2 separate regions of the Homo sapiens genome follow, and region 1 is linked to region 2. The links come from fine-mapping of genetic effects on gene expression. A gene starts in region 2. The other region holds a variant in brackets. All regions are shown on one strand. Distances are from middle to middle.

Region 1 (14,562 bases), 220 kb after region 2:
GTGGGGTCTCCACCTGGCGATGTTGGTGGGGCTTGCGAGACGGTTCTGGCGGCGATTTCTGCCAGCATCGGGCCCCTGAGCTCAGCTGCTCAGGGGCCCCGGGGGTGTGAGCTCGGGGACAGCAAGGTGCATCTGGGGAGGGCCTGGCGGGTGCATCGGGCGGAGTGTGGGAAAAGCTGTTCTGTGCCGGGAGAGTGGAGCCATGGTCTGGAGGCTGGAGGGCCGGCCCTGGGGAAGGAGCTTGGGGCAGGATGGGTGGTGGCTGTGGGACCGGCCGGGGTGGTGCAGCCCAGTTGAATAGGCCTCAAACGCCCCGAATGCAGCTTGAACCTCATCCTGAGGCCGCGATGCTTGAACTCGCAGCCCAGACCTGTGCCGTGTGGGCACTGGCTCTGGTGTGTCCAGAGGGCCTGGGGTGCTCTGATCTGCCTGGAGCTCTGAGAGCCTGACTGTGGGTCTGGGGGTGAGATGGCCCTGCAGGGAAACCCACTGGACAGAGCCGCTGCTGGCCCCTGGGGTGGACGGAAACAAGTGCGGGAGGCAGACAGCCTCCTCCTCCTGCTTGTTTAGAGAAAAAACAGACTTGTGACACTGCCCTCCCGGCCGTCCGGGCATTCTTTCCGGGGACATGGCCGCTTTGGTCAGTGACCCTAGGGAAGGTCTGCAGAAGAGCTTGAGCTTTCAAAGGGCTGGGGGCGGGGAGAGAGGGAGGGAGAGCCGGCTCCTAAGCCCTGGGGGCTGAGGCTGACGCCCAGCATGGCTGCAGAGTCCCTGGGCATAGACAGCCACCCACGTGCCCTCGGGTCACACCCTCTCGGGGGACAAGCCCAGGCAGACAGAGGCATCGGCCCAGGCCCGAGCAGACGGAAACCGCTTTCGCTGCCACTGAGCCCAGGGAGGGGGCTCCTCGTCATCTGTCCACACGGAGAGGAGTCCGCGCCCCATCTTGTCCGGCGTGCAGAAGCTCCGCCTGTGCAGACGGGTGGTCCTGCCGTCTGAAACCTGTTACCTGGGAGGGGGTCCAAGCTGGAAACGGTGGAGGGTTCCCAAGGATCCCAGCAGATTGATGGACGGCAGGGCTGCAGGCGGACGGGGCGGGGGCTTCCTAAGGAGAGAGGTGGGCAGCCTGCAGCCCCCATCCCACTGCCCCCACCCCACCGTGTGGCTGCTGCCTGGCCTCAGTTTCCCCATCTGTGAAACAGGTGAAATGGGCTCACTGTCCGGGCCTCGGAGCATTCTTATGGGGGTCAGGGCCTGGCAAGGGCTGTGCAGGCTGGGCTCAGAACTAGGCCGCCCAGGCTGCGTGGCCACAGGGGTCTCGGCCCCCACTTCTCCGTTTGAGACCTGCCCAGCCTTCCTGTTTGCTGCAGCTACGGCCGTCAGATTCGCCACCAGGAGCTGCGGTTGTCCTCCCAGACAGGGAGACTGAGGCCCTGAGACCGAGGCTGGCCGGGGTCAGACATGCAGGCCGGGGTGAGGCAGGACACGGCTTGCAGCCCCAGCTCCCTCTGTGGGGCCAGGAAGCTTCTAGAACAGTCCAGTTCACGCTGACATGGCAGCAGCTGCTGTCCGGGACCCCACAGGCAGCAACGTGGACAGACGGGTCACGATCACTATATTTTTGTTTTTCTGAGACGGGGTCTCAGTGTGTTACCCAGGCTGATCTCGAATTCCTGGGCTCAAGCAATCCTTCTGCCTTGGCCTCCTGAGTAGCTGGGACTACAGGTGTGAGCCACTGCACCCGGCTTCCAGATCATGATTTAACCAACCCTCCCTCCCAGAAGCCGCAGCCCGTGCTGGGAGCCTGGTGGTTTTTGTCGGAGGGCCTGGGGCTGGGCTGGGGCCTCCTGGGATCTTGGTGTGTTTTCTGCCCAGGGTATCCTCCCAAGGTGCCCATCAGGAGTCCCAGGACCAGCTGGAGGTCACGTGGGGCTGTCCTCTTGGCGTCCCCAGAAGGGCCCTGCTGTCCAGGCTGGCCGGGGACCTCACCTCGGGAACTTCCCGGGACCCTTGCATCCCTGTGGTGTAGTGTGCGAGTCAGGGGTGAGGCTGGGCCCTCGCTGAGCACCTGGGAAGGCACTCCACCACCCAAAGAGAGAACCATGTAACCTCAGTGGGCTTGGCAGCTGTCTCCCCGCTGTGTGACCTGGGGCAGGTCCCCGAGCCGCTGTCTCTGTGAGATGCAGACATAACCGGTGTCTGCTCCACAGGTCGGGTGTGAGCCTTAGGTTGGTATTTGTGAAGCGCTGAGAAGGACACCCTTCACTGCAGGGTGAACAGAAGTCACCCTTCCAACAACAGAAGCGATGATGTGTGGGACGAGGTGGATCCGGGGCCTGTCCTGCCCTCGGGGGCAGCGTGGCTGGCCCTCTCTGCATATGGTGCCGTCCCCTGCCCTGGGAGCCTCTCTCCTCCGTTCCCTGTGGTCCTCTGGGGGCATCAGGCCTCTGCGACCCACCTGGTCACCAAGCGTTGTGATGGGAAGAGCCCCCTCCGAGCTGAGCTGTGCTGAACCGCCCTGGGCTGGTGACCTCACCTCCCAGGCCTGCTTCCTGCCACCTCTGACTGTGGCAGGAGCACTGGTGAGGGGCGGCCTGTCAGGGTACAGGAGGTGAAGCTGGGGCCGTCTGATGTCGTACTACGGTCCCAGCAGCATCACCGTGGCCGGAGCAGGGCCGGGAGCCCTGGCCTCTGCCCACCTGTGGTCCTGTGCCACCTCATTCCTTCACAGCCCCCCATCCTGGCCTCGGTTTCTCTGTTTGGGCAAGATGACCTCTGAGGCCCTCCAGCCCCTCCCTTCGTGGACTCTGAGCTGCTTTGGACATCATGTTTTTATCTTCCAGAAACTTCAGTGCTCTCAAGAAGGAAAATATTTATGAAAACAATAAACTGGTGAGTGGCCCCCGCCCCGGCCTCACAGCTGGCTTAGCCAGCCTGCTGAGCCCCACCCACGTCCGAGGGACCGAGGGACTCCCCCCAGGCCCTGCACCTGCCTTGGGAGTCCTGCCTGGGAATCGGGGGCTCCCTGACCAGCCCGGCAACGCGTCCTGGGCTGGGTGACCCTAGCGTTCTAGAAATAGCCTCTTATCTTGGCACCCAGGGCATACTGGTCCCCTCTTTTCCTGAGCTGGGGAGCAAGGTGCCAGGAGGTGGCTGGGGACCCTACTTCACTGCAAGGGGGCTCAGCCCAGTCTGCCTCAGGCAGAACAAGGGTCTGGGGGTGGCTGTGGGGGGCTGTGGATGGGTCCCAGTGGGCCTGCTGCCACTCCCACCACATGGGACCTGCCTTCCGGCCCTGCCAGGATTCCAGTCCTGCCCTGCTCACCCCAGCTTCCAGGCCCTTCCCTGTGTGCAGCCTCAGTTTGCCTGCTGCAGAATAAGCACCACGCTCCCTCGTGGGCAGAGGCACCGGCAGACTCACCACGCGCCCTGCAGGCATGTCCTGTGCTGTGCCAGGCAGGCCCCGGCCACGTCCCTGCCCCCGGAGCTGGCCTTCAGCGGGGACAGTGGTCAGCACTGAAGACAGTCATACCTGCCCGGCCGGCACTGCCCTGCTCAGCACGGGGACAATTTGAACTTAAGCTTTAACTTAATTAAAATGAACTAAAATTACAAGTTCATGGTGAAACCTCGTCTCTACTAAAAATACCAAAAATTAGTGGGGCGTGGTGGTGCGCACCTGTAATCCCAGCTATTCAGGAGGCTGAGGCAGGAGAATTGCTTGAATCCGGAAGGTGGAGGTTGCAGTGAGCTGACGCTGCGCTCCAGCCTGGACAACAGAGTGAGACTCTGTCTCCAAAAACATAATAATAAATAAAAATAAATAAATAAACAAGTCCAGTTCCTCAAGTGTGCCGGCCACACTTCCCATGCTCACAGCCATGCCTGGCCGGCGGCTGCTGGGCTGGACGGCGTGGGCTGTCGAGTCCCTGTCTCAGCCTCTAGCGGCCCTCACCTGTTGCCTGGGAGCCCTGACATGGCGACCTGTGTGTCCCTTCTGGCCCCCGGGGAGGGCTCAGCAATGTCAGCCCTGCCTCTGGAGGGAGCTGTTTCAAGACTGCGTAAGTCTGGGTTGGGTGGGGCCTGGGATTCTCCCGGTGAAGGGTAGGATCCCCTGAGGTTTCACCTGGACGGGGCCTTGAGCGCCCACCGGCCTGGTGACCTCAGTCCTGTGCAGATGGGACCGTGATCCCCGCTGCAATGATGGGTAAGCTGAGGCCGGGAGGCCACGCGAGCAGAACTCAGCTCCGGCCTCCAACCCACGCCTCTTTGGGCTCCAAGACTGTGTCTTTGAGTCGAGGTGAGCTGCGGCCTGGTGGAGAAGGAGGGGGCTCCCAGCTGCCCCGCTGACCCCCTCCCACCTTTCGCAGGCCTTCCGCGTGGCCGAGGAGCACTTGGGCATCCCAGCCTTGCTGGATGCCGAGGACATGGTGGCCTTGAAGGTGCCTGACCGGCTGAGCATCTTGACCTACGTGTCCCAGTATTACAACTACTTCCACGGCCGCTCCCCCAGTGAGTCCCTGCCGCGCCCGCCGAGCCAGGCAGGACCAGGCCCCCCATCCTTGGCCTGGCTCCCAGGCCTGTGGACTTTTTGGGGTCCATGCCCAGCCCCCCCCCCAAGAATGGCCCCTGGCATGGGCACCGGGGCTGTGCACTGGCTGTGAAGCAGCAAGAGGCCTTGGTGGGCGCCCCATCCCCAACCCCGGCCCCATGCAAAGCCCCAGGCTGTGTCTTCACCAAGAGGGACCGGGGCCCTCATCCTGCTGCAGGAGAGCTGCCCCCGCTGCTTCCCCAAGGTGCCAGGTGCACCAGCAGCTCCTGCCGCCCTGCCCCTCATGGGCCTCAGTTTGCCCATCTGGACCCCTGAGCTTCTGTGCCCACTGGGGTGGCTTGGCTGACCAGGGGCAGCTCCTGGGCCTACCTTCATCTGTCCTGATTTTGGACCCTATGGAAGCCAGGCTGGCCTGGCAGGGTGGGGCCCCCGGATAGAACTGGGCAGGGGAGGGACAGGCCCGGCCTTTGTGTGTGTAGAGCTCAGCTCCCCACCCCCCCACCCCCACATTCCTCTTCTAGGGTTTAGAAATCCCCAGAACCATTCCGGGCACAGGGCCTGCCCTGCCTGCTGGAGAAACAGAAAAGTCCCTTTTCCCTGACTCCAGCTGGGGCTCTGAGTGGGGAGGGAAGGAGTGGGGACCGACCCGGGGCTGTGCCAGAAAAAGTGCCCTCAGGGTTACCTCTCCCCAGCCCTGGGCCCCCAGGTCCCCCCCGGGCACCAAGGCCTGTGCTGGGCACTGGGACCTCTGGAGGGACTAGACCCTTTCAGAGCCAGGCCTGGGACCCTCCCGATCCCTGCTTGATTCCTCCAGTTGGGGGCATGGCAGGCGTGAAGAGGGCCTCGGAGGACTCTGAGGAGGAGCCGTCAGGGAAGAAGGCTCCAGTCCAGGCGGCCAAGCTGCCCTCGCCCGCCCCAGCCCGGAAGCCTCCACTATCTCCAGCCCAGACAAACCCTGTGGTCCAGAGGAGGAATGAGGGTGCAGGGGGCCCGCCCCCCAAGACTGTAAGCTCCCACCCCACCCTCCCCCTGGTTCTCTGGGTTTTCCACCGGGGGGTGCAGAAGGGGCTTGTGGGACTACGTGCGGCCCCTAAGCCACGGGACCCAGAGTGGGGTGCGGCTCCCCCAGTCCAGGGCTCAGCCTTAGCAAGAGCCGCCAGGACCGGGCTCTCCAGGGCTCCATCAAGCCAGGGGTTGTGATCCCACTTTGTACAGATGGGAGAGCACAAAGGTGGGACAGAGCTTGAACCTAGATGGGCCCAGGATACCTCTCTCCCGGGGAGAGAAGGGTTGCTGGGCTATGCCCTGTACCCAAGGCCGGCTCTGCAGAGTGAACCCAGGCACCCCCACTTCTCAGAAGCGGAGTTGGGGTGGAAGGCGGTGGGCAAATATCTGGTGGTTGGCAGCCCCTGCTATGCCTGGACTGCCACTCCAGGCTCCCGGGATGGTGGGAATTGGATGGGATCCATGCCCCTAATGGGGCAGGAGGAGGCCTGGAATCTGTCCCCTGGCCCCCAGCCACCGAAGGACCACTAGCATCGGGCCTCAGCTCTCTCCCCAGGGCTGGGCTAGAGGCCCTGGACTGGGGCTGCCACCCACCTGGGTGTGACCCCGACCGCAGCCCTGCTGGCGGCTCCTCTCCTGGCCAGTTCTCCATCTGTAAGATGGGCTCTTCCGGCCACCTGTGGGCTGCCACCAGGAGGGAGGGCTGGGTGGACGGCTGCTCAGAGAGGTGCTGGCATCTTCCCCAGGACCAGGCATTGGCGGGCAGCTTGGTCAGCAGCACCTGCGGGGTCTGCGGCAAGCACGTGCACCTGGTACAGCGGCACCTGGCCGACGGGAGGCTTTACCACCGGAGCTGCTTCAGGTGGGGCTGCCCTCTGCCCGCACGCCTGAGTGTGCACCTCCCCTCCCAGAACCCTCCCACAGCTCCCATCGCCTCCCACCCGGCCTCCTCCTCCCCGCTCCTCGTTCCTCTCCCCTCTCCCCTCTCCCCTCCTCCCCCCTCCCCCTCCCCGTCTCCCCTCCTCCCGCCTCCTCCCCTCTCCTCCCCTTCTCCCTCTTCTCCCTTTCACTTTCCTTCCCATCCTCCCTTCCTTCTCCTCTCTATCCTCCCCCTCCTCCCCCCTCCTCTCCCTCTTCACTCTTCTCTCCCTAATGGTCCGCCTCCTCCCCCTTTTTCCCCCTCCTCCCCCCTTCTCTTCCTCCTCCCCCCTCCTCTCCCTCCTCCCCCCTCCTCTCCCTCTTCACTCTTCTCTCCCTACTGCTCCGCCTCCTCCCCCTTTTTCCCCCTCCTCCCCCCTTCTCTCCCTCCTCCCCCCTCCTCTCCCTCCTCCCCCCTCCTCTCCCTCCTCCCCCCTCCTCTCCCTCCTCCCCCCTCCTCTCCCTCTTCACTCTTCTCTCCCTACTGCTCCGCCTCCTCACCCTCTTCCCCACCCCCCGCTCTGTTGCTGATAGCCCAAGATGTTCTACTGTTCCCAGACACCCAGGACCTGATGCCCCTCACTAAGCCCCAGTGTCCCCCAGTGCCCCCGTCCAGATGCCTCCTCCAGTGCCCCCGTCAAGATGCCCTCCCGACTGTCCTTCCACACACACTGCCTCAGTCTCCCTTCTGTGCCTCAGCCCTTCCCACTGGTGTTGTACTCAGTGGCCATCCCCAGCCCCTTGCTGCCACCCTGCACCCCGGGTGGGGGCTCCTAGGAAACAAGCGCTGTTCCCCCTACTTCTGTCCCCAGCTCTGCAAGGCTGGGGTGGGCCGGTCCTCCCAGTTCCATCCCCCACGCTGTGAGGCCAGGGTGGGTCAGCCCCGAGGTGGGGCCTGGGGTGGCCTGTGGGTGTGTGTCTGCTGACCTGCACAAGCACCCTCTGGGGTTTGCACCCCAAACGAGGTTTTTGGTGGGGTTTGTGATGTAAGTGGTTAAGGACCCTGAGAAGAGGCGTTTGTTGAATGAATCAGCGACCTCGTGAGTGGAACACAGGAGTCCGCAATGCCTGCTCTCAGGAGCACGTGGTGAATGCGTGGCGGGGCGGGCGTTCAGCAACCTCGCAAGTGGACACAGGAGTCCGCAATGCCTGCTATCAGGAGCACGTGGTGAATGCGTGGCGGGGTGGGCGGTGCCGAGCTGGGGCTCCTGTGCCTTTCCTCCCCCAGGTGTAAGCAGTGCTCCTGCACGCTGCACTCGGGGGCCTACAAGGCCACAGGAGAGCCGGGCACCTTCGTCTGCACCAGCCACCTCCCCGCAGCCGCCTCTGCAAGCCCCAAGTTGACGGGTCTGGTCCCCCGACAGCCAGGGGCCATGGGTGTGGATTCCAGGACCTCCTGTTCCCCACAGAAGGCCCAGGAGGCAAACAAGGCCAGACCGTCGGCCTGGGAGCCTGCTGCGGGCAACTCGCCTGCCAGGGCTTCCGTTCCAGCTGCACCCAACCCTGCAGCCACCAGCGCCACGTCCGTCCACGTGAGGAGCCCAGCCAGGCCCTCTGAGAGCCGCCTGGCCCCCACTCCCACGGAGGGGAAAGTCCGCCCTCGTGTGACCAATAGCTCCCCGATGGGCTGGTCGTCAGCTGCCCCGTGCACAGCAGCGGCTGCCTCCCATCCCGCCGTGCCCCCGAGTGCCCCAGACCCTCGCCCGGCCACACCCCAGGGTGGGGGAGCCCCCCGAGTGGCAGCTCCTCAAACCACACTCAGTTCAAGCTCCACATCTGCAGCCACGGTGGACCCCCCAGCCTGGACCCCGTCCGCCTCCAGGACCCAGCAGGCCCGGAATAAGTTTTTCCAAACATCAGCAGTGCCCCCCGGCACCAGCCTTTCTGGCAGAGGTCCCACCCCGTCACTTGTTCTATCCAAGGACAGCAGCAAGGAGCAGGCGCGGAACTTCCTCAAGCAGGCCCTCTCAGCGCTGGAAGAGGCTGGCGCTCCGGCGCCTGGCAGGTGAGCGCGTGGGGACCGAGGGACCCCGGGTATGGCCTCTTTGCACCAGCCAGCGGGGCCCCGGAGGCCAGAGGGGTTGGGGGCGCTGCACCTCCCTGGCTGTGTGGCCTTGGGGACTGCACTTCCCCCAGCCTGTTTCCTTCTCTGGGGAATGGGGAGGAGGAGCCAGGGTGGCAGTGCCTGTGGTCAGGGTGGTGGAAGCCGGGTCCTTATGGAAAAGCTGCTGTCCGCATGTGCTCGGGGCGTCATGGGTGCGGTGGCGCTGCCGCTCCGGGGCCCCCTGTGCTGCACTCCCTTGGAACCCAAGGGTCCTACGCCCATTTCATGGACGCGGGGACAGGTCGCGAGCGGGACCCACGCTGGCGGGTCTGAGTGGACGCGGGGACAGGCCGCGAGCGGGACCCACGCTGGCGGGTCTGAGTGGACGCGGGGACAGGTCGCGAGCGGGACCCACGCTGGCGGGTCTGAGTGGACGCGGGGACAGGTCGCGAGCGGGACCCACGCTGGCGGGTCTGAGTGGACGCGGGGACAGGTCGCGAGCGGGACCCACGCTGGCGGGTCTGAGTGGACGCGGGGACAGGT[C/T]GCGAGCGGGACCCACGCTGGCGGGTCTGAGTGGACGCGGGGACAGGTCGCGAGCGGGACCCACGCTGGCTGGGCTGAGCATCACCTTGTCTGACTGAGTCCAGCCAGGCCCTGACCTTCCATGCCTGGGCCCGGCGCCTGCCTGTGCCTGGACCCTGAGCAGATGACGTGGACGGGTAGAGGGGGGCGCTGCATCAGTTTCCAAAGACCCCCTCACTGGGCGGCTTACACAGTAGAAATCCACCCCCTCACAGCTCTGCAGGCCAGAAGTCTGACCTTGAGGCGGGGGAAGGGCCGCGTCCCCTTGCAGGGCACTAGGGGTGGACCTGTCCTTGTCTCTTCCAGCTCCCAGCGGCTCTGAGCGTTCTTGGCTTGTGGTCGCCTCCCTCCAGTCTCTGCCTCCGTTTCCATGTGGCCTTCTCTCTGTCTGTCTTCTCCTCTTCTGTCTCTTCTAAGGACATGGTTGTTGGACTAGGGTCCACCCTAACCCAGCGTGAGTGCATCTTAACATGATCATAACTGCCAAGATGGTTTACAGATAAGGTCACACTCTGAGCTTCCCAGTGGACATGACTTTTAGGGGTCACCATTCGACCAAGTACAGTCACTTAGCGAGTAAGAATGCTTGTCGCAGCCTGGCTGACAACGCCGTTTCCTGCCCCGTATCGTGGGGTGCAGGCGTCCCCTGCTCAGAACTGCCTCCTGCCCCCGCAGTGGTCAGCAGGGGGTGCTCAGAGCCTCCGGGGTGGTCACAGACAGGAGAAGAGCGAGTTCGCTCTGCTCCTCCTGGCACTGGGGGGTGTCCAGGGCATCCTAGGGACTGAGGATGAGTGGCGGGGGTGCTCCAGGGAGTGCTTCCTAGGTGGTGGGGCGGGGGGCATGTGTGGCTGGGGAGGACCCCAGCTCCTCTGGGGAAGCTGGCCTGGCACACCTGAGCCCAGTGTAAAGGGAAAGGGGGGAGGGAAACTGGTTGTCGAGGGGGGTGGGGACATGGAGGCACTGGCTCGGGGGTGGGGAGGCACCTGGTGCCCCCACCTCAGGCTCTGGCAGCCTCACTCCTGGTGTGTGCCTGAGGGAAGGCAGGAAGGCACGGAGGCCTTGTGTCTGGCCCTGTGTCTGTGTGTCTGGCGGGGCCAGAGAGACTGTGTCACATGGGACTGAACCTGGCAGCCCAGGCCGGCCCAGCCTCTGACAAAGCCCCAGGTGCCTCCAGCCTGGGTGGGTGGTGTGTTTAGGGGGTGGATATTTTAATCTCAGCCAACACTGGATTTCACAGGGGAGGAGAATCAACCACAGCATATGCTCATGCCAGAAACAGGTGTCTGTGGCCTGTGCCTTGCCAGGGTGGTCATTGGGAGCGAGCTGCAGGGAGGCAGAGGGGCAGCCTGGTGCAATGGTGGGGGAGGCGGAGGGGTGGCCTGGCGCAATGGTGGGGGAGGTGGAGGGTGGCCTGGGGTGATGGTGGGAGTCCGTCCGGAGGCTGGGCATTGGGAGTGAGCTGCAGGGAGGCAGAGGGGCGGCCTCGGGTGATGGTGGGAGGGCGCCTGGATCCAGCTGTGCCTGATGCCTGCGCTTTTACTTATAGGCCCTCCCCAGCCACTGCCGCTGTTCCCAGTTCTCAGCCCAAAACTGAAGCACCACAAGCAAGTCCCTTAGCCAAGCCGTTACAGTCCTCGTCTCCCCGGGTGCTTGGCCTCCCTTCGAGGATGGAACCGCCAGCCCCGCTGAGCACGAGCAGTACCTCTCAGGCATCCGCGTTGCCCCCGGCAGGCAGGAGGAACTTGGCGGAATCCTCAGGGGTCGGCAGGGTGGGTGCTGGCTCCAGGCCGAAGCCAGAGGCCCCGATGGCAAAGGGTAAAAGCACCACCTTAACGCAGGGTGAGTAAGGGGCTGGGAGGCAGGAGGCCCCGGGGGCCCGCAGCTCTGGGACTCTCCCCTGGCCGCACTCTGCAGTGTGTGCGGTTTCATCATCAGCCCCGCCCGCCTTCCTCTCCGTCTCATCTCTGTCCTCCGTGACACCTGCTCGCAGCCTCCTGGGGTCCTGGTGCGCTCTCTGTGTGGTGGCTGCAAATGTCCTCAGGGCTATGCTGTTTGCCGGCACCCAGCCCACCCCATCCGCACGTCCTGCAGGTGCCTGCAGCCCAGCCCTGCAGCGTCCCGCTCAGCTCGGTCTGGCAGTTACATCCTGTGGCTAGCAGTGGCCTGGCTTGGCCGTGGTCTGTGGGGCCTCCTGTTCTCCCGTGGTGTTTTGCGCTTCCTGCCTGTCGCTTTGACAACGTCGCGCTGTTGCTGTGGCACCCTGTGTCACCACATACCGGAGATGGTGCCCTATGCCCCGTCCCCCCTGTGGTGTCCCGGTGACGGTGCCCTATGCCCCGTCCCCTCCGCTGGTGTCCCAGTATGCCCTGTCCCCCTGGTGGTGTCCAGGTGAGAGCGCCCTGTGCTCCGTCCCCCCCGGTGGTGGTCTGGTGACGATGCCCTATGACCTGAGGGCTCTGGTGCCTCCTAGGCTGGGAGCTCTTCCTGGGGGCTCCCTGGACCACACAGTCCTGTTTTATGGCCTCACGTGTTTTCGGGAACAGGGAGCGAGCTTTCTTCTAGGCAACTGGCTGTCACCCACCAGGGGTTAGCCCCCTGGGTGATCATGGCCAGGCTGGGCAGGACGTGGGCTTAGGGCTTGTGAGGCCAACCCTGTGCCAGCTGGGAGGCCCAGGGCACTGGGATGGCCAGGCTACGCAGTGAGCTGTCAGCTGTGCCAGGACAGACCCCAGGCTCCTGGCGGCCCTGCTTTGATGCACGGCTCTGTCTCCCAACCTGGGGGCAGCCGAGTCCCCCCGCCTCGCCCCACTGCAGGAAACTGGCTGTCCCTGCCACCTGGGTGTGTGTAGAAAAAAGCTAGAGGTTCCCATGGCTTTATCGAGCTGGGCTCAGGGAACAAGCTGGGCTGCAAAGGGTTTTTCCAGATCCTTCTCTTTGGCTGAGTTCTCATTGTTAAAGCCACGCGCTGGATCCTGCAGGACCCAGGAGCCAAGAAAGCCTGCAGACGGGCAGCCGTGGCTCAGGTGTTCCCCTTGCACAGGTGGACAGAGGATCAGGGTCCACGGGGCTCACCCTGCCACGTCCCCACCCATTCGGCAGAAGGGGAAGTTGAGGCCCAGAGGCAGGGAGAGCTTCCCCCAGGGACACACAGCACAGGAGAGCCAGCTGGGAGCCCCTCCCCTGACTCCCTGCCCGGTGCTCCTGATGCCCCCCGGCCGGCTGGCTGTGGGGGTGTCTGAGGGTGGAGTGGCTATGGGAAGATGGCAGGGGGAGGCACAGCCACCCTTGCAGACACCCCATTCCCAGCACTCCTTCCTCACACCCAGACCCCTTGCCTCCCACCCAGACATGAGCACCAGCCTCCAGGAAGGCCAGGAGGACGGGCCGGCAGGATGGAGAGCGAATCTGAAGCCCGTGGACAGGAGAAGCCCAGCTGAGAGGTTAGGGATGGGTGGGGCTGGCCCAGGGCCTGGTACACCATAGGTGCTTAATAAATGCAGTGAGTATGTAATCGACCGATTGACACGCCTATCCAGGGATAGACGCACCTCCCTGTGAGTAGCAGAGGCCAGGTCACCCCTGCCTGAGGGACATGGGGGCCGCTGTCCCTGGTTTGGGGGCAGCGTTGCGTGTCTCACCTGGGCATGGCAGCACCCGTGTGGGTTCACGCACCATGCCTGCAGCTGGGGTGGAGTCTCCCCATGTGTGGGTCCCGTGGGGCCCGGAGCTCACGCCTGGAATCTGCTTCGCACCACGGCAGGTAGCGATGGACACGTGTGTTTGCAGGAGGGTCCCAGCAGGTGTAGTCAGTGGGCTGGGAGGTGGCATTTGCTCAGAAGGCCACCTGCTCCCTCCGGCTGGTCTGCATATGGCCTGGGAGCCCCTCCAGGTGGGCCAGGCCCTGGGGCTGGTGGTTCGGGTTCCGACCTCATGCCTTCTGCCCAGGACTCTGAAGCCCAAGGAACCACGGGCCCTGGCAGAGCCGAGGGCGGGGGAGGCCCCCAGGAAGGTCTCAGGCAGCTTTGCTGGGAGTGTCCACATCACCCTGACCCCCGTGAGGCCTGACAGGACCCCACGCCCAGCCAGCCCAGGACCCAGCCTCCCAGGTACTCCTGGACGGGACCCAGGGGCCCCCGGGTTGCCTAGCTGGCCCTCCCCCTTGGGTGGGGGCCCCGGGACTGGACCTGTAGTGCCACCTCCTGGGGTGTGCGGAGAGGCGCTCCGGTCAGCCAGAGAAGCTGGTAGTCCTGGGCAGGCTTGTGTGTACATGTGTGCATGTGTGTGATGCATGTGTGCATGTGTTCATGTATGTGATGCCTGTATCCATGCGTGATGCATGTGTGCGCATGTGTACATCTGTGTTCATGTGTGTGATGCATGTGCACGTGATGCATGTCCATGTGTCTGTTCATGTATGTGATGTGTGATGCATGTGTATTCATGTGTACATCAGTGTTCATGCGTGTGATGCATGTGTACATGTGTGATGCGTGTCCATGTGTCTGTGTTCGTGTATGTGATGCATGTGTGCCCACACGTGATGCATGTGTCCATGTGTACATCTGTGTTCATGTGCGATGCATGTGTGTCCATGTGTACATCTGTGTGATGCATGTGTGTGCAACCGTGTTCATGTATGTGGTGCATGTACCCATGTGTGGATCTGTTTCATGAATGTGATGCATGTGTGTCCACGTGTGCACCCGTGTTCGTGTGTGATGCGTGTGTGTGCACACACATCTCTGTGTGTATTCCTAGCACTCATAGCTGCCCTGGATCCATATCCAGCTCTCGTGCCACTTCCTGTGTGACCTTGAGCAGCCAGCAGCCCCGTGGGTTAGCCCCCTGGGGAGACATGGCCAGGTTGGGCAGGACGTGGGTGTAGGGCTTGTGATGCCAACCCTGTGCCAGTCGGGAGGCCCAGGGCATGGGGATGGCCGGGCTACCCAGCGAGCTGTTGGCTGTGCTGGGACAGACCCCAGGCTCCCAGTGGCCCTGCTCTGAAGCGTGGCTCTGTCTCCCCACCTGGGGGCAGCCAGGTCCCCCTCCCCACCCCGCCGCAGGAGACTGGCCGTCCCTGCCAGCCTCGACGTTTGTGACAACTGGCTTCGGCCGGAGCCCCCTGGCCAGGAAGCCCGAGTGCAGAGCTGGAAGGAGGAGGAGAAGAAACCTCACCTTCAGGGCAAACCAGGTCAGCCCCAGAGACACCGCTGCTGTTTGGGGTGTACGTGAAGGGAGCCTTCCTCTGAGGAGGCAATGCCTGCTGGGGCTTTGGAGGATGCATTCACAGGACCTAGAATGGAGGGAAAGCCTGGAGGAAGGACCCAGCCCCGTGCCCCAGGCCCGCCCTCATGAATAGAGACCCTAGCTGTTTCAGAGTACCTTGTTACAGACTCATGGTGATGATGGAATGTCTGCTTCTGGCAGCTTGAGGGACTGGGGTGGCTGGGGTGTTGCTGAC
Region 2 (14,562 bases):
AAAAAAAAGAAAAAGCAGACAACAAATTCATTTTACAGAACCTAACCCTCAGACGGAAGGAATTTCACATCAGAGCCACGATCATTCATGAACCCACATCGGCTGCCCACTGTGGTGTCCAAGAGGGGAAAGGGGTGGGGGGGCCAGGAGGGTGTGCACACACCTCTATTCACGCAGACACTAATCTACACACACGTGAGTTCATGCACGTGTGTGCACACTCCCATATTCAGACACGAATCTACATGCACACACCCGCGAACCTACACACACCCCTGCACAGTCCTCTGTTCACACAAGTGGTAATCTACACGCACACACGTGAACATGCGTGCCTGCTCCCATATTCACTTGGACACCCATCTGCACCCAGAGCCACACGCAAATGAAGATCTGAGAATCCCGTCTCCTGGAGGAAGCCGGGGTGCCGGATACCTGAGGAATGGGCCCTGAGCCCCACTTCTGTGGGCACCCTGAGGGGTTCTGTGCCAAGATGACCCCACTGTTTCATACCAATCCATTCTGGGGGGTTCATCTCCCCAAGAACACAGCTCTGAAATGCTAATGGCTGTCAAAGGGAAGCAGGACTTGCTTCGCACAACCTTCCTCTCCACAGGACGGCCTCCCTCATTTCCTAATGAATATAAATAGGAAAATGGGTTTTGCCTTACAGAATATTTTTCTCTATAGGAATGTAGCTCCAATTTCTAAGCACTGTCAAAACAGAAGTTACATCCTCTCTGTCTCTCCGCTGCCAGCGTCGGCACCCAGTACGGGCTACCCTCATGGCTTTCAGACGTCGGCAGTCCCCTGGGTGGCTCATTCCCTCGTGTGCCCTTAAAAACCCTTTCTCCGTCGACATCAGAGGGATGCTTTAAAGCCAGCCTTGTCTCTCAGCTGCTGCAAACTCCCCAGAGACTTCCCGAAGCAATCCGAGTACCAACCAACTCTTCCCAAGAGCTCCGACACAGGAGCAGCCCGGACCCTGGGGCCTCTCCCGCTCACCTCTCAGCCCCCACGGCCAGCTGCACTGGCCTTGCCCTTCACCCACACGAAGCGTGTCTCGGCTGCGGGGCCATTACACCTGCTCTCCCTTCCCCAGCATCCTCCTTCCCTGTCTCTTTGCACAGCAGGGCACAGAGGGACGCAGGGACCGAACCTGCGCCCCATCCAGGTTCCAGGGCTGCAGGTCTGAGGGCCATGCAGGGCAAGTCAGAAGGGCGGGGGATTCTGCCAGCAGTGGCGGCTCTGCCCTTTCCAGAACTGGTGTCAGCCATTTACACTCCCCACAGCCATCCATCCACCCCCGTCCTCACATGACGGAGGAGAGGCCGAGGCTCCGGGAAGGGAAGGGACCCACCTCAGGTCACGCCGAACACCAGAGGCTCCCCAGCCCGGGCCACCCCATGATCTGCAGCCAAGCCCTTCCACCATTCCACAGGACAGATAGATGCAGGGGTGGTCCCTCAGTGAAGAGGGCAGAGGCCGGGCCCTTCCACAGCTTCCACGGGGCAAACAGACACAGGGGCAGTCTGTCAGTGAGGAGGGCAGAGGCCTCAGTGCAGGCTCCCCTCAGGCAGGGAGACAACAGACTGGGGGTTCCTCTCCAGGGTGCCCTGGAGCCACTACCAGCACCCTTTAGGCAGAGGTAGGCACTTGGCTAATGCCATCTCCCTTGGGATCTGGTCTAGGAACCAGCTGCCACCTTTCCAGACATGTCCGGGAAGCATCCCAGTCCCCCTCCCAGGCAGCCTCCCTCGGTCAGCACTCTGACCAGTGCGGGGGCCAGGCAGGAGCCACAGCACAGCCCAGAGTCCACGCCCAGGAGACACATCCTGAGGGTCCCCAGCCCCTTGGGCTTCTAGGGAGGCCGTGGAGGTCGAGATGGCAGTGAGGGAGCCAAGCGCTGGCCAACCCTTCATGCAGCCCTGGCGGGGCAGCTGTGCTGTGGGTATCTCCGGGACACCTTCCCAGCCACTACTTCGGGCTGTGTCTCGACAGCGCGGGACTGTGAAGGCACACAGCTGTCCTTGACTCGTCCCTCCGGGCCAGCGACGCCTCACTGTGTGCTCTGCAAAGCCCTCTCCCTGCAGGGCCTCCTGCGCACCGGCCGAGGGTCTGGGGAGCCCCCCGACGGCCCCCCCATTTCCAGACCCCGCTCCTCGGCCCCAGGAAGCCGGGCGGGATTCTCATCCATGTGGGGCGGGCACATGGCTGGCTGTGTTTGTATCTGTGTTTATTAAACTAGAGAGAGTTAATGACTAAGAGGTGCCTGAGTTTGATCCTGCTGAAAATAAGACTCGGATCTGTCGGTAAACACGGGGGAGCCTCCAGGCTGTCAATCATCTCCCGGGGTTTCCATCCCAGGAAGGATTCCGCCTGGACCCAACCCAACAGCCTCCAAATGTCAGGGCAGCAATGCCGGGGTGTGCACCTGTCACGTGGACAGACCCCCGCCCCCGAGCCCTCGGCCGCCACCTGGCCACATGTCCAGCGCTGGTGAGAAGCTCTCAGCGCGGTCAGCACTCTGTGACAAGCCCTCTGACAGAAGTTACCACTGGAGTGGGGCGGACAGCAGAGAGATGCGCTTCTGTGGGGTGGGGTCCTAGAGGGGGTAGTGGGCCACAGAGGGCCTGGGGGTGCACAGGGGTGGAATGTGGCTTCCCAGACAAGCTGGTTCACCTCCACGCCGTGGGCTGCCGGGTCCCCGTCGGTAAGGCCAGGGCACTCTCCCAGCTGAGCCCGGATATGAGGTGTGGGGAGCCCAGCATGGGAGCAGGGCTGAGCCCAGATACCACTGCCTGCAAGCCTCAGTGGCTTGCGGCCACTGCCCTGTCTGCGCCTCAGTGTCCCTATCTTTAAAATTCAGAGATTGAATTGGGGGCTCTAGCAAACACAGTGGACCTGGTGATGGCTGGGCTGGCCCGGGCCGAAGGATGTTTCCCGCCCGGCTGTGCCTCCTCTGTCCCCATCCCTCCCTCGGAAGCCCAGAGTGCAGTTTTCCAATATACCCCAGCCTCATGTGGGGGCACTGGGCACAACACACAGGGAGGCAAGGCCCTGTCCCTTCCACCAGTCTCTCCCACTGTGGCTGCCCGAGTCTGTCCTGGAACTGGCAGAGGAAGACATTAGGGCAGACGTCGAGGGCGGGGGGGTCACCGTCCACTGTCATGGCCCCTCTCCCCACCCCCCTCACTGCTCTGGGGGCCTCACACCTTCCCTTCCGCTGCCTCTCCTGCCTGGATGCCTGCCTCTTCCTGTGGGGTTATCTAAACTCTGCCCACCCTATAGGGGCCAGCTAGACCCCTCCTCCTCAGCCCCAAAGAGGAGCTTGGGTCCGGCTCACAGGCGAGGGGAGCCTGGAAGCCGTGAGTCCTGAGGAACTAACTGCTGGGCAGAAGGGAGGCAACCGGGGCTGAGTAACCGAGATCCTGAGACTCCAGGGTCTCCCACCACAGAACAGCCCCAGGAGTCCTAGCCATGTGGGTGGGGAAGAGCTGTGTGGACCAGCCTCCATGGCTCAGTTTCCCCACTGGCTCCTGTGCACCCCCATGGCCCGGAGCAGGGAGCGGAGGAGTGGTCCTCTCTGCCTCAGTTTCCCCACCGGCTCCTGGGCACCCCTCATGGCCCAGAGCAGGGAGCAGAGGAGTGGTCCTCTCTGCCTGACTCAGTTTCCCCACTGGCTCCTGTGCACCCCTCACGGCCCGGAGCAGGGAGCAGAGCAGTGGTCCTCGCCGCCTGACTCAGTTTCCCCACCAGCTCCTGTGTACCCCCGTGGCCTGGAGCAGGGAGCGGAGTAGTCGTCCTCTCTGCCTCCCCTCTGAAGGTCCCTCAAGCCCTGCTGGACCCCCTCCTGCCTCAGCCTGGGTTCCAGCTCTTCTCCAAGACCAAGACCCCAGCTGCCCCAGGACAGCTCTACAGGTGTGGAGGCCTGGTCCAGCCACAGCTCCAGCTTACTTGCTGTGTGACCTCGGGCGATGCTGGACCCTTCTGGAAAATGGACCGGCTGGACCATCTTCAGGGGCTGGACCGGCTGATCTCCGAGGGAAAGGAGGCACATTTATTTGTGAGACCATTGTCTTTCCATCTGGGGATGCCAGCTCCAAGGCAGCCAGGCTCCTCTGGGCTTTGTCCCAGGCTCCAGGTAGGGCACACAGTTGGCCCTTGTCTGCCATCAGCGCTCCCAGGGTGGTCTCTCACCTCCCGCCCTCCCTCCCCAGGAGGCTGGAAGAGGTGGGACAGAACCAGGTCTCAATCCACCAGCCTTGGGAAAGGGACATCCGGGGCAGGGGGCGGGGAGGGGGGGCACGGTGCTGGGCTCGAGTGCCCATAGCTGCCACCCTGCTTCCTGTTTACTGTCGGTGCCACTGACTGGCTCAGGGTGCACAGGGGTGAAGGGAGGCAGCAGCCCCCAACGACCAAGGCCTCCCACCCTGCTGGAATCCCCTGACCTGAACCAACACAACAGGACACAGACGCCAGACATAGGACCCCTCCACCACCCTCTCCGGCCCCACCCCAATCCGGGCCTCAGTCTCCCCATCTGTACAGCTGGTGCTGGAATGGATGGCGCCATCGTCCACTGCAGTGGCTCCACCACCAGCCACCCCCACAAACACCCACCCAAGGCCACTTGACACCTGAGCTTGTGCTGGAAGAAACCAAATCCACAACAAAAACAAAAAGGAAAGAGCGGGGGGGGGCGCTGGAGAGATGACAAATGTATCCAATGTCCGCGGCGGTGCCACCATCCGCTCCAGGTTCACGCCTGGAAATTTATGGCCTCATCACCCAGCCCTGGAGATCTATCTATCTCTCGCCTGTCACTCACTTGCATTTTTAATCCTGCCCCCCGCCCCGCCACCGGCCCCCTCGTGTATTTATGCACCACCCACCCGGGCATCTCGAGGGCCTGCCTGTTTCTTTCTTGTGAAGATATATGAACACCCCAAGTCCATGCACCTCTGCTCATAAATTTCCTCCAATGCGATGGTGTCTGAGTCTGGCACGGAGAAACACAGTCCCCTACCAAAATGGGGAATTGGCTTGTCGGGGGGGAAGGGATCCTGGGGTGGGGGCTCTGACCTCAGGGGGACCTTAGAAGGAGGCTTTCCTGAGTGCTTAGAAAATTCTATCAAAATCTAGAGCTGATGCGTGTGTGTTGGAAACAGATAGAGAAAGTCACCAACATGGGACCCAGGCAGCCACTCCGATTTTACCCCATTGATCTCAGGCACTGTGGTCATATTTTAGTCCCATTAATTTTTCTCTCCTGGAGAGCAGGTGAAGCCTACAAGTATACATTTAGGGTGAAAATATTCAAATGCCGGGGTCCGAGACAGGCAACTACTCCAGGCTCTGGCCCTGGGCGCTTGCTGGGACCCCGGACACCTGTTTCTTGGTGGGGACCGTGGTAGGGAGGTGGAGGAGCAGCAGCCTCTCCCTGGCCCAGGTGTGGGGAGCCTGCCTCCAAAGACACTTTGAAAAATCAGTGCTTTCCAGTGGCAGTCCTGGGGCATGGTGGGGAAGGGACGCCGCCCTCCCTCCCCTCCTCTGGTCCTGGGTGCAGGTGCCCACCACATCCCTGCACCCTTACCCCAGACTTACCAGGCCTCAGGAGTGTGGCTCTGGTTCAGGTGCCCACTGGCTTTTCTGGGAGTCGGGAGCTGCCTGCCGAGCCTGCTGTATCATCCTGAATTATACGCACACAGCAGTCCTGCTGCGGCCGAGGAGGAGGGGGCTGCACAGCTGGCTGTAGGACAGGGGGAGGGGCATGGCCCCCAATCTCTGACTTGGAGACCCCCAGGTCTTCTGCCCACTAGGGGTGGGGATCAGAACTCCCTGACCACCGTATGCCCAGGAAAATGAGGGACCCAAGTGCTGGGGTCCTGGCTGGGCTCCAAACCCCCTCAAATCCAGGTGAGGGGGTGACCCCCTCCCACACACGGCCCCCTGGAGTTTGTCCCCCTGCTTTGGTGGAGTGGGGCGCAAACCTGGGCTGGGACCTGTAAGCCAGTCTTCTCAATGCTTGTTCAATTAAAAGGTGGCAGGGGCAGGGACCCAGGGGGCAGGAGGCCAGGGGGCCAGCCAGGCAGAGAAGAGGAGCATGTTGATGCTTTTCAAGCAACCTATGCCCAACCCAATGGGGTTTCCCCCAAGGCTGGGTGCAAGCTGGACCTCTTTGGAGGCTGGGGGCCTCTCTAGGGGGCAGCCCCTGAGAGAGGCAATATGGGGAGATTTGCCATTTACATCTGCTCCTGGCTCCCGGTCCCTCCACAGCTTCTGTCCCCAGGCTCTCCGCACAGCCCTTAGCCCAATCGAGGGAATGAGCGGCAGAGGCAGCCAGCCCAAGCCAGGGTCCAAAGAGGCCCCACTCCGGGTGTGCAGGAAGGGAAAGTGCTGGCACGGAGGCTTTTTGAGGACGTGCACACCTGGCTCGGCCGGCCTCGACCCTTTCTGCTAAGCCTTCGTTTTTTTCAGAAGGCATGATCATCCTAGCCCCATTTCACAGGTGTGGAAACTGAGGCTCTGAGATTCACCTGCCCCAAGGTCACACAGCTGAGACCTGGAAAAGCCGGATTTTCATCTCAGAGGGTGTCGTTTTTATGGGGGGGGGGGCGGTGTGCGGTACGGCAGGCAGTGCCCCCCGCCCCACCCTCAGCATCAAGCAGGTGACCTGCAGGTTTCAAAGGATGGAAATGGGGGCGCTTGTCTTTAGAGGCAGGTTGGGGCACGGAGGCTTGGCAGCCTCCTCCCAGCCCCCAGAGGGACGAGGACGAGGATGGACTCCAGGTGGGGCGAGGGGTGGAAAGCACCCAGTAAGTTCAGTTCGGAGCGAAGCCCCCCACCCCACCCCCCCGCCAGTGGTTGGACTCAGGGGCTGGGACCGAGGAATGTGACCCCTCCCCGTGCGTGACTGGACGGTCCCCGCGCGGAGCGAGGAGGCTCGCAGCGTCGGGGGGAGGGCGGCCCAGCAGGGAGGGCGATGCGAGCCTGGGGAGGGGTCAGCGACTCGGCCAGGAGGTGAGGACAGCCCCCTAATTTCCGGGAAGGGAAGGGCAGGGGGCCGCGTCTGGGGGGCGCCGGGCAGGGTGCGGACGGCGAAGGGGGACGGAAGGGAGAGAGGCGCTGGGGAAGGGACCTCTCGGAGGCACGGGGCAGCGTGCGGGCTGCGGCAGCGACCCCGACCCGGGCCCCCGGGCTTTGTCGGGCTGAGCCTGCGCCCGCTCCGCCGCCGCCAAGTTCCTCCAACTTTGCCCGCTGCGCTCGGATCGCGCGCCAGGCCTGGGGGCGCAGCAGGGGCTGGGGGCGCACGCTGCGCACTCGGGGACGCCCGGGGTTCGAGGTGGCGGGGGGCTTGGCCGCGCCGCTCCCCGGGGGTGGTCCGGGTCCCAAGTCCCCCAGGTTCAGCGCCCGGCCGCGCTCGCCGCTTACCTGCCCGCCCGGCCTCGGTTCCGGGGCTGCGCCCGCAGCCGCCGCCGTCCTTCAAGCTCTAACTTCGCTCCCGGGATTGAAATTCCTCCCCAGCTTCGCCCATCGATCTGCGCGCGCGGCCCCGCCCCTCGCCGCGCGGCCGGGGGGGAATTCAAGCTCGCCCTGCCCCCTCCCGCCCCCCTTCCCTCCCTCCCTCCCTCCTTCTCTCCCTCCCTCGCTCCCTCGCCCGCCTGCGCGCTCCCTTCCACCCCCTCTTCCTCCGCCGCGAGTCCGGCTCGGAGCCTCTGGCCCTCCCCTTCTCTCCCTGGCCTCCCGAGCCCCCTGCTCTCCTCGGCTCCCCGCGGCAACCCGCTCCTTCCCTCTCCCGGCGACGCGCAGGGGCTGGGGAAGGAGGGGAGGTCCTAGAAAGCGCAGGGGGCGTCCTCGCGGTCCGTCCCCGGCCCTCCCCGCCCACATCTAAAAGGTGGAGGGGGTGGGTGGGTGGGTGGGGGGAGTGGGGGCGACAGCTGTTGGCTGAACAAGCTACCCGCGACTCCCACCACCTCAAGCAAAGCCAAGGCGTTCTCAGGTCCTCCCGTCGGTCCGCCCCTTATCCGGGAGGGCAGGGACCTAGGGGCGGAGAACGCAGGGCGCAGGCCGGGCCTCCTCTGCCCAGCCCTGGCCCCGCTTCCTTCCTTCATTCACCCCAACCTCTGTGAGGACTTCAGGGGGTTCTGGAGCACTCTTCGGCTCAGTTTCACCCTGACAACCTGCCTGTGCGGAAGCCCCCGTCCGCATGTTACAGGAAGGGAAACTGAGTCAAGAGAGGCCCAGAATCTGGCCCTACACAGCGCGTCGAAGGCAGAGCCCCAGGGGCAGCCTGGACCCCCGGCAGGAGCCTCGGGACTCCACGCTCGGGCCGGGCAGGCCCCGGCGGTGCCTGGACAAGCCCGCGTTCGCAGAACGGCCGGCGCCTGGGGACCCTCTCCAGTCCCCGCGCAGCCCGCGCGTCCCCGCCGGCGCCCCCTCCCCGCTTCCTGTCCCCCGCCCGCCTCTGGTTCCCGGCCTCAGTACCCCCGGCACGCTCTCCGCTCGCCGCCAGCAGCTGGGCAATTCAACGAGCATACAAAAGAGTTGACTCAATTCAAAGGCAGCAAATCAAGATAAATCCTATAGTGTGTGGGGACCGGAGAGGGAATGTGAATGAACGCCCACGACGCCGTTCAGTCCTGTATGGACCGGCCTAGCCCGGCTGCAGGGCCTGACACGCCCGGGTCCTAGGGTTCTCCAGGAGCCAGAATCGGAGAGTGGGCTCTGAGCTGCCTTGGCTCCCAGGCCCCCAGCACTGGCCCGAATTTAGTAATTTAGAGCTTGTGGCCTCCTTCGGCTGGCTGGGTGGGGCTCCCGTGATAGGGGTGCAGAGCCTTGAAGGGGAGTGCTAGGACGAAAGCCAGTGCGCCCCCACGATTTCATGCAAATACTGGGGGGCAGGGGCCCTGGAAACCCAGCACAGCCCCAGGGGCCGGCAGGAAGGGCACCGGTGGTTTGGAACACCTAAGCTGTGGCCTTTCTCCCTCTGCCCCGACCTGGACCACGGTCAGAGCCAGGCCGCAGGCCAAGAGCAGGTCCTTGTTTACCCACCAGATAGATACTGCAAGCCTGGGATGTGCCAGGCCTGGGCCTGTGGAACGAGGCCGGCGGTGAGCGGGGCACCCTCTCCTCCCTGCCTGTCTGTGAGGTCTCCCCAGCTGCAGCTCCACTAGGGAGAAGCTGGTCGGCCCCCAGAGCTTCCTTGGTCACGCTTGGAAGGTCCCAGTAAGCTACCCTCCAGCTTCTGGCCTGGCCAGCCTTGTGCAGAAGATGACCACCGGGCTCCGGGCCCCAGCCTATCCACTCCGCCTGCCAAACATAAACCCCAAGAGAGGTACTGGATCCCCATTTCCAGCAGGTTCCCCCAGGCCTGTGCTGGCCAAGTGCAGCCGAAGCTCTGGAATGAGCCTCCTTTGCCTTCGCAGGTGTCCCCCGTGTGCCCTGCGCTGTGCTGGGCGCCTGCCCGGAGGAGCCGCGCCAGGACGTCCTGCTACTTCCCAGGAGCAGGCATGATGAGTCCATTTCCTCGGGGTGCAAACTGAGGCCGAGGGCCTCTTCAGAGCGCCCTTGACCGGTACTGCCTGACCCCAGAGGTCAGTTCTGCGGTCACTCGGGGTCTGAGATCCACGGAGAACCTCAGAGGTCAACTTGAGGGGCGGGTAGGGGTACGCGCGCGGGGCCGTGGGAGGCGAGATCCCGCAACCTGAGGAGCCAGGACCCCAGCAGAGAGCGAAACCTGGAGCTGGGGGAGGGGACGGCAGAGGACTGGAGGCCGGGCTGCACGGCAGGGGTCGAGTCCTCGCGGCCGCCCCCCCCCCCCACCCCGAGCGGAGGCTGCGCCGTCCGGCTGCGACCGAGTCCCCGGAGTCCCGGCCGGGTCGCCCCTCCCCCGTGGCCGCGCCGATTGGCGGCCTGCTGTTACCCGGACGCCGGCGCCGCCGCCGCGAGGACATCTGTCCGGGGCCCAACGCCGCGCTCCACGCCCCCTGCCCCTCCCCCAGACCCAGAACCGGGGAGAGGACGCGGCGGTGAAGCTGGGAGGTTGGAACCTGGAGGGCGGCGGAGTCCCGGAGTTAACGGGGCGGGGGGCGGGGCCGGCGCTGGCCCTGGGGACAAAGATCCCCACGCTGCCTGAGGGCTGGGCTCTGCAGACACCGAGGCAGGAAGAAGGACTCCGTATTCCCCGTCCCCCAGATCCTCAAATCCACTCAGGCTCAGACCTGAGTGTCCAGGTGGGGTGGGGGAGACCGAACCCTCCTGGGCCCTCGAGGCGCGCGAAGGCGACGCTGAAGGGGGGACGCCGGGACGCTGCTTCCTCCCTGCACACGCCGCCCGAGCTGCATCCCTAAACGCTCCAGGAGCTTCGCGGGTCCCCCCTGCCCTCCACAACCCCCGAAGCTGCCCCCAGCGACCTCTCCCCGCCCTCAGATGGGGCCGCAGGGGCGGGCGAATGTGTTGCGCTCGCCGTGGGTTGGGAGGAAGGGCGCGGATTGTAGGAAGTCCCTGCTCCTCCCTGGGCAGCCTGGCCCCGGGGACTCGCGCTCAGCCCGCGGCGGAGGACTCGGTCGGGAATGGTGCTGAGATTGCGCGGGTACGGCCCAGGGCCGTGACCGGGTGGCCACCGTGCAGTTTGGGAAGAGAAAAAGTTCGGGGGGGGGCCGACACCCCGAGATCGAAGAGGGAAAATGGGAGGAAAGCAGGCGGCAGGGAGGGAAGAGCGGCGGAAGAGGGACCAGGAGAGCTGGGGGTCCGCTCTGGGCCCCGGGGTCCCGCCCCACTCGGCAGCCCAGCCCAGCCCAGCCCCGCCGCGCCAGCTTCCCGGACCGGGAGAGGCTAGGGTCACCGACGCCTATTAATAGCCGCGAGCGGGTCCTTCCCGGGAGCTCCGCAGCGGTCGGCAGAGCCCAGCCACCGGCTGGGGTGGGGGCGGGGGTCCCGTAACACCCCCTCCGGAGGTTCAAGCGGCGCGGGGCGGGGCGCTGCGCCCCCCCACGCCGGCTTTGCGAAGTCGAGGCACCCACAGCCCACTCCCTCCCCACCTCCGACTCCGAGACCAGGTTTCAGATGAAGAGGGGTTCGTCTGTGGTTCAACTTGGGGCGCCGCGGCTACCCCAGCGCACTCGAAGGCGCGCCCAGCCCCCTCCCCCTCTTTCTGCCCAGCCGGCTTTTTGCTCTCAGCGCGCTCCGGAAAGTTTCGGGGTCCCCGCGGCGCCTCCCTAGCCCTAGGGGTCCGGAGTCCTGGCCCTTCCAGCCGCGGCGTCGGGGAGGGAAGTTTGTCCGGCCCAGGCTCGGCGGCCGCTAACTTCGGGTGCGCCCGCCTCCGAACCTGGGTGGGTGGATGGGGACGCCCGGGAGCCGCGGGCCCCGAGCGCCGCATCCAGAGCCCCGCGGGCGGGGAGACTCGGCCCTGGCGCGGACGCCGAGGTCAGGGCACCAGGGATGGGGTGGCCCGGGCTGCGAGAGCCGCTGGGGACCCTGCGCTGCCCCCCGCCGCCCCCCCCAGAGAGCATCCTCTTCCCTGCCTCCCCTAGGGGCGGGGACCCTCCGATCCCGCAGCGGCGACAGAGGGGTCCCCCGGCCCCGGACAGCCCCCTGCCCCTCAGGCCCCTTCTTACCTGGGCCGGGGTGCGGGCCCCGGGCTGGAGGCACTGTCGCGGGCGAGCAGAGCGCGCGCACCCCGGTTCCCCGAGCGCGGCGGCGGCGGCGGCGGCTTCCCCTCCTTCCTCCTCCTCTTCCTCCTCCGGGCTCGCTGGCTCCAGACAGCCCTCCTCCCCCTCCCGCCCTGCCGGCCCCTCCCGGAGCCCGCCCGGCTGGACTCGGCCTGCGACCCGGAGCCCAGCGGAGCCGGCGGGAGCCAGGCTGCGGCGCTCACTGCGTCAAGCGCGGGGCGAGCGCGGGGCGGCGGCGGCGGGGACCGCGCGCTCGGAGCCCGGGGCTGGCCGGGCAGGCGGGGGAGCGGCGGCTCCGGCTCCGACTCGGGCTCGGGCGCGGGCGCAGTGGTGGCGGCCGCGGCAGCGCCGAGGTTGTAGCACATTCTTTCTGAGCGTGATGGAAGGTTTCATGTGGGAGAGCGCGCGGGGAGGGATGGGGAGGGGGCGGGGGCCGCGGCGGGGGCGACCGGAGGGGCGGGGGGCGGGGTCGCTGCCCGCACGTCGGTGGGCTGGGGGGTGGCCGGAGGGGGGCTCCGGAGGGGAAGTTGGAGCCAGCCGCGGGGGCGGCGTGGGAAGCCGAGTGGCGGCCTCGCCCCCTCCTCCTGGCCCGCCCCGCTCGCCCCCTGCCCCCGCCCCAGGCCACCCAGAGGCTCCCAGGCTTCGGTTTGGAAGAGAAGCGTCCGAAGGTCTGGGGGTCGGGACCCTGGTGGCGCTGGGAGGTGGGCCCCTGGGTGGGGACACGGCTGTGCTCACAGGCGCCCGGCAACCTCGTGGAAGTTGACCCCAAGTCAGACCCTCTGTGAGCGCGCGCGTCCGCGAGGGCCAAAGCACAGCCCGCAGGACGCGCGTTTGCGGGGCGGGGGGAGAGCGGGGCACTTGGGGGCGGGGAGGTGGAGCGAGAGGGTCGTCGGGCCCCTGGCGGCCCCGCGTCCCCAGAGACTCGCCCTCCCCTAAGGTCGCCGACCCCTCCCTCCCTTCCCTCCCCGTTGCGCGTCGCCCCCCGCCTTTCGGCCGGGAGGAGGGGGAGGCGTGGGAGCGGCCCGGCGCCTTCCGATTCCCGGAAGGTTCGGTTTAGCGGATTTCCCTCTCCCTTCATGTGCCTCCGGAATCCCAGCGGATCCGAAATCGCGCCCTCGGGCTCTGAGCCGAGGGGTCCCCCGTCGCTCCCTGGTGGTCCCGAGCCCTCGCCGAGCGGTCTCACGGCTTCCCAGGGCGTCTCCCGCTCCCACCCGCCCCTTCCCCAGCCTGCGGCTTTCGTGTGGGCTAAAAATTCCAAACCAGGCTCAAGAGCGCCCTCGCCCGGCTAAGCCCCCGCGCGCCGCTTCACAAACCGGCCGCGTGCGGAGCTGCGGAGCCCGGGACCCCCAGCGCGCGCTGGGCGCGACACTCTGGACCCCGCTGCCAGCGCCGCGCCCCTCCGGCCGGGGAGCCCCACACCGTCAAGAGGGCAGGGAGAGGGGAGGGGAGGGGACTACTGGAGGGGAGGGGGCTGCTCCCCGGGTGTCTTTCCCGGAGGAGGTCCCGGGACAGGGGTGGGGGTGGCGCGGGAGGCCGCAGACAGCGCGCCCCGAGGATGGCCGGGCCGGGGATGGGCGCGCGGGGCTCCTGTCCGGACGTGGGTCCAACGGCCTCTCCGCAGCCCAGAAACTCCGTCCAGCCCGCGGGACGGCCGCCCGCCCTCCGACCCCGAGCCTCTACCACACTTGTTCCTGCAGGACGGGGTTGGGGGGACTGAGACCGTGATTGAGGCCGGGGCATGGAGGAAGTGCCGCCGCCTGCTCCCGGGATTGCTGGACACGAAGGGTGGAGGCCAAGGACGGAGCCCCTGCCTGCGGCTGTCCAGCCCTTAGTCCCTGCGCGGGGGCGCCCAGACCTCCAGGGAACAGGGAGACAGAGCGGGCCGAGCCCGGCCTGGGGGGGGTCTCTTCCTGGTCCCTCAGGGAGGGTCCCGGCTGCTCTGAAGCGCGCAGTGGCCTAGGTGCGCACACAGCCCCTTTCTCTCACTTCCCCCCTCCCCTACTCGAGGGGCCTGGAGAGTCCCGGACCTGGCTCCTTGGAGGAAGCTGGGAGAAGGGAGCTGTCCCGCGGACCTTCCAGGGCGCTGAGGAATTTCAGCCCTGACTGACTCCCTCTGCAGCGCCTTCCAATGCTGAAATATGCCCTCCTGTCCCGTGAGAAGGCAGGGCCCCCGCGGGGCCTGGCTGGCCTCGGGCTGCTGTCCCCCCTCAGGCTGGGAATGGGCCACCCCAGGACAGACCCGAAGAGAGGAGGTGGGAGGAAGGCTGGCTGTCTCTGGCCTCTTCTGGAGCTCTCTCTCCCCGCCTCTGTTTGCCTCTGTCAGAGAATATGTTTGTTCTCTCTCTCCCTCTTCCTCTCTCTCTCTCCCTCCACCCTCCTTTTCTGTCTCTTTCCCTCTTCCTCTTCCTCCTCTTCTCCCCTCTCCCTTTCCGCCTCTCCTCTCTCCTTTTCTTTCTCCGTCTTGGTCTCTTTCTCTCTGACATTCATCTCCTCCTGATCCCCCTCCCCCAGCAGACAGAGGTACCCAGAGGCAGCCTGTGTGGTGTAGACACCTTACAGCACATCCAGGGAAGATGCGTGTGGATACCCACCCCAGCTCCCCGCCGCAAGCCGGTGTCCCACAGGAAGATGCCGCAGCCTCACTGGGACAGGAAGGCTGGAACCCCCCCCACCCCATAGCTCACACTGTGGTTGTGCAGAGAGTTGCAAAGGCATCCTGCTTCACACACCCCCGAATCGCACACACCCCGCCCCACCCAGTGTAACCCTCACACGCAGGCACGCACACTGGTGTGGCACTATGACGATCCTTCCTGTGATGGAGGTTCCTAATGGCTGGTGGCTGGCATGAAGTCATTTAGTCCTCACAGCAACCCTAGAAGTGAACCAG

Which allele goes with the higher level. Positions count from the first base shown, and alleles are read on the strand shown. Sizes are in standard deviations (SD) of each study's normalised expression.
For the expression in unexposed skin of the gene that starts at base 7,512 in region 2, allele C in region 1 goes with a higher level than allele T (moderate effect, 0.53 SD a copy in GTEx).

What was found. PIP is the estimated chance that this variant, and not a neighbour inherited with it, causes the effect.
Region 1: its variant is the best candidate, but not a certain one, in a credible set for the expression of ELFN1 in unexposed skin (GTEx, PIP 0.90).

Annotation. Positions count from the first base shown.
Region 1 is chr7:1,438,570-1,453,131 of GRCh38, reverse strand. MICALL2 (MICAL like 2) reads left to right here. Exons shown (of 17, transcript NM_182924.4): 2 at 2,844-2,892; 3 at 4,371-4,512; 4 at 5,367-5,557; 5 at 6,304-6,419; 6 at 7,704-8,480; 7 at 10,648-10,940; 8 at 12,448-12,541; 9 at 13,047-13,207; 10 at 14,137-14,292. Among named protein-coding and RNA genes, the nearest start is that of MICALL2, 14 kb to the left of the region's middle. RefSeq lists enhancers at 768-1,319, 5,775-6,279. The variant C/T (reference allele first, on the strand shown) is at 9,063.
Region 2 is chr7:1,663,227-1,677,788 of GRCh38, reverse strand. ELFN1 (extracellular leucine rich repeat and fibronectin type III domain containing 1) reads right to left here and starts at 7,512. Exons shown (of 4, transcript NM_001128636.4): 1 at 7,435-7,512. RefSeq lists enhancers at 5,960-6,666, 6,667-7,373, 7,374-8,080, 8,081-8,788.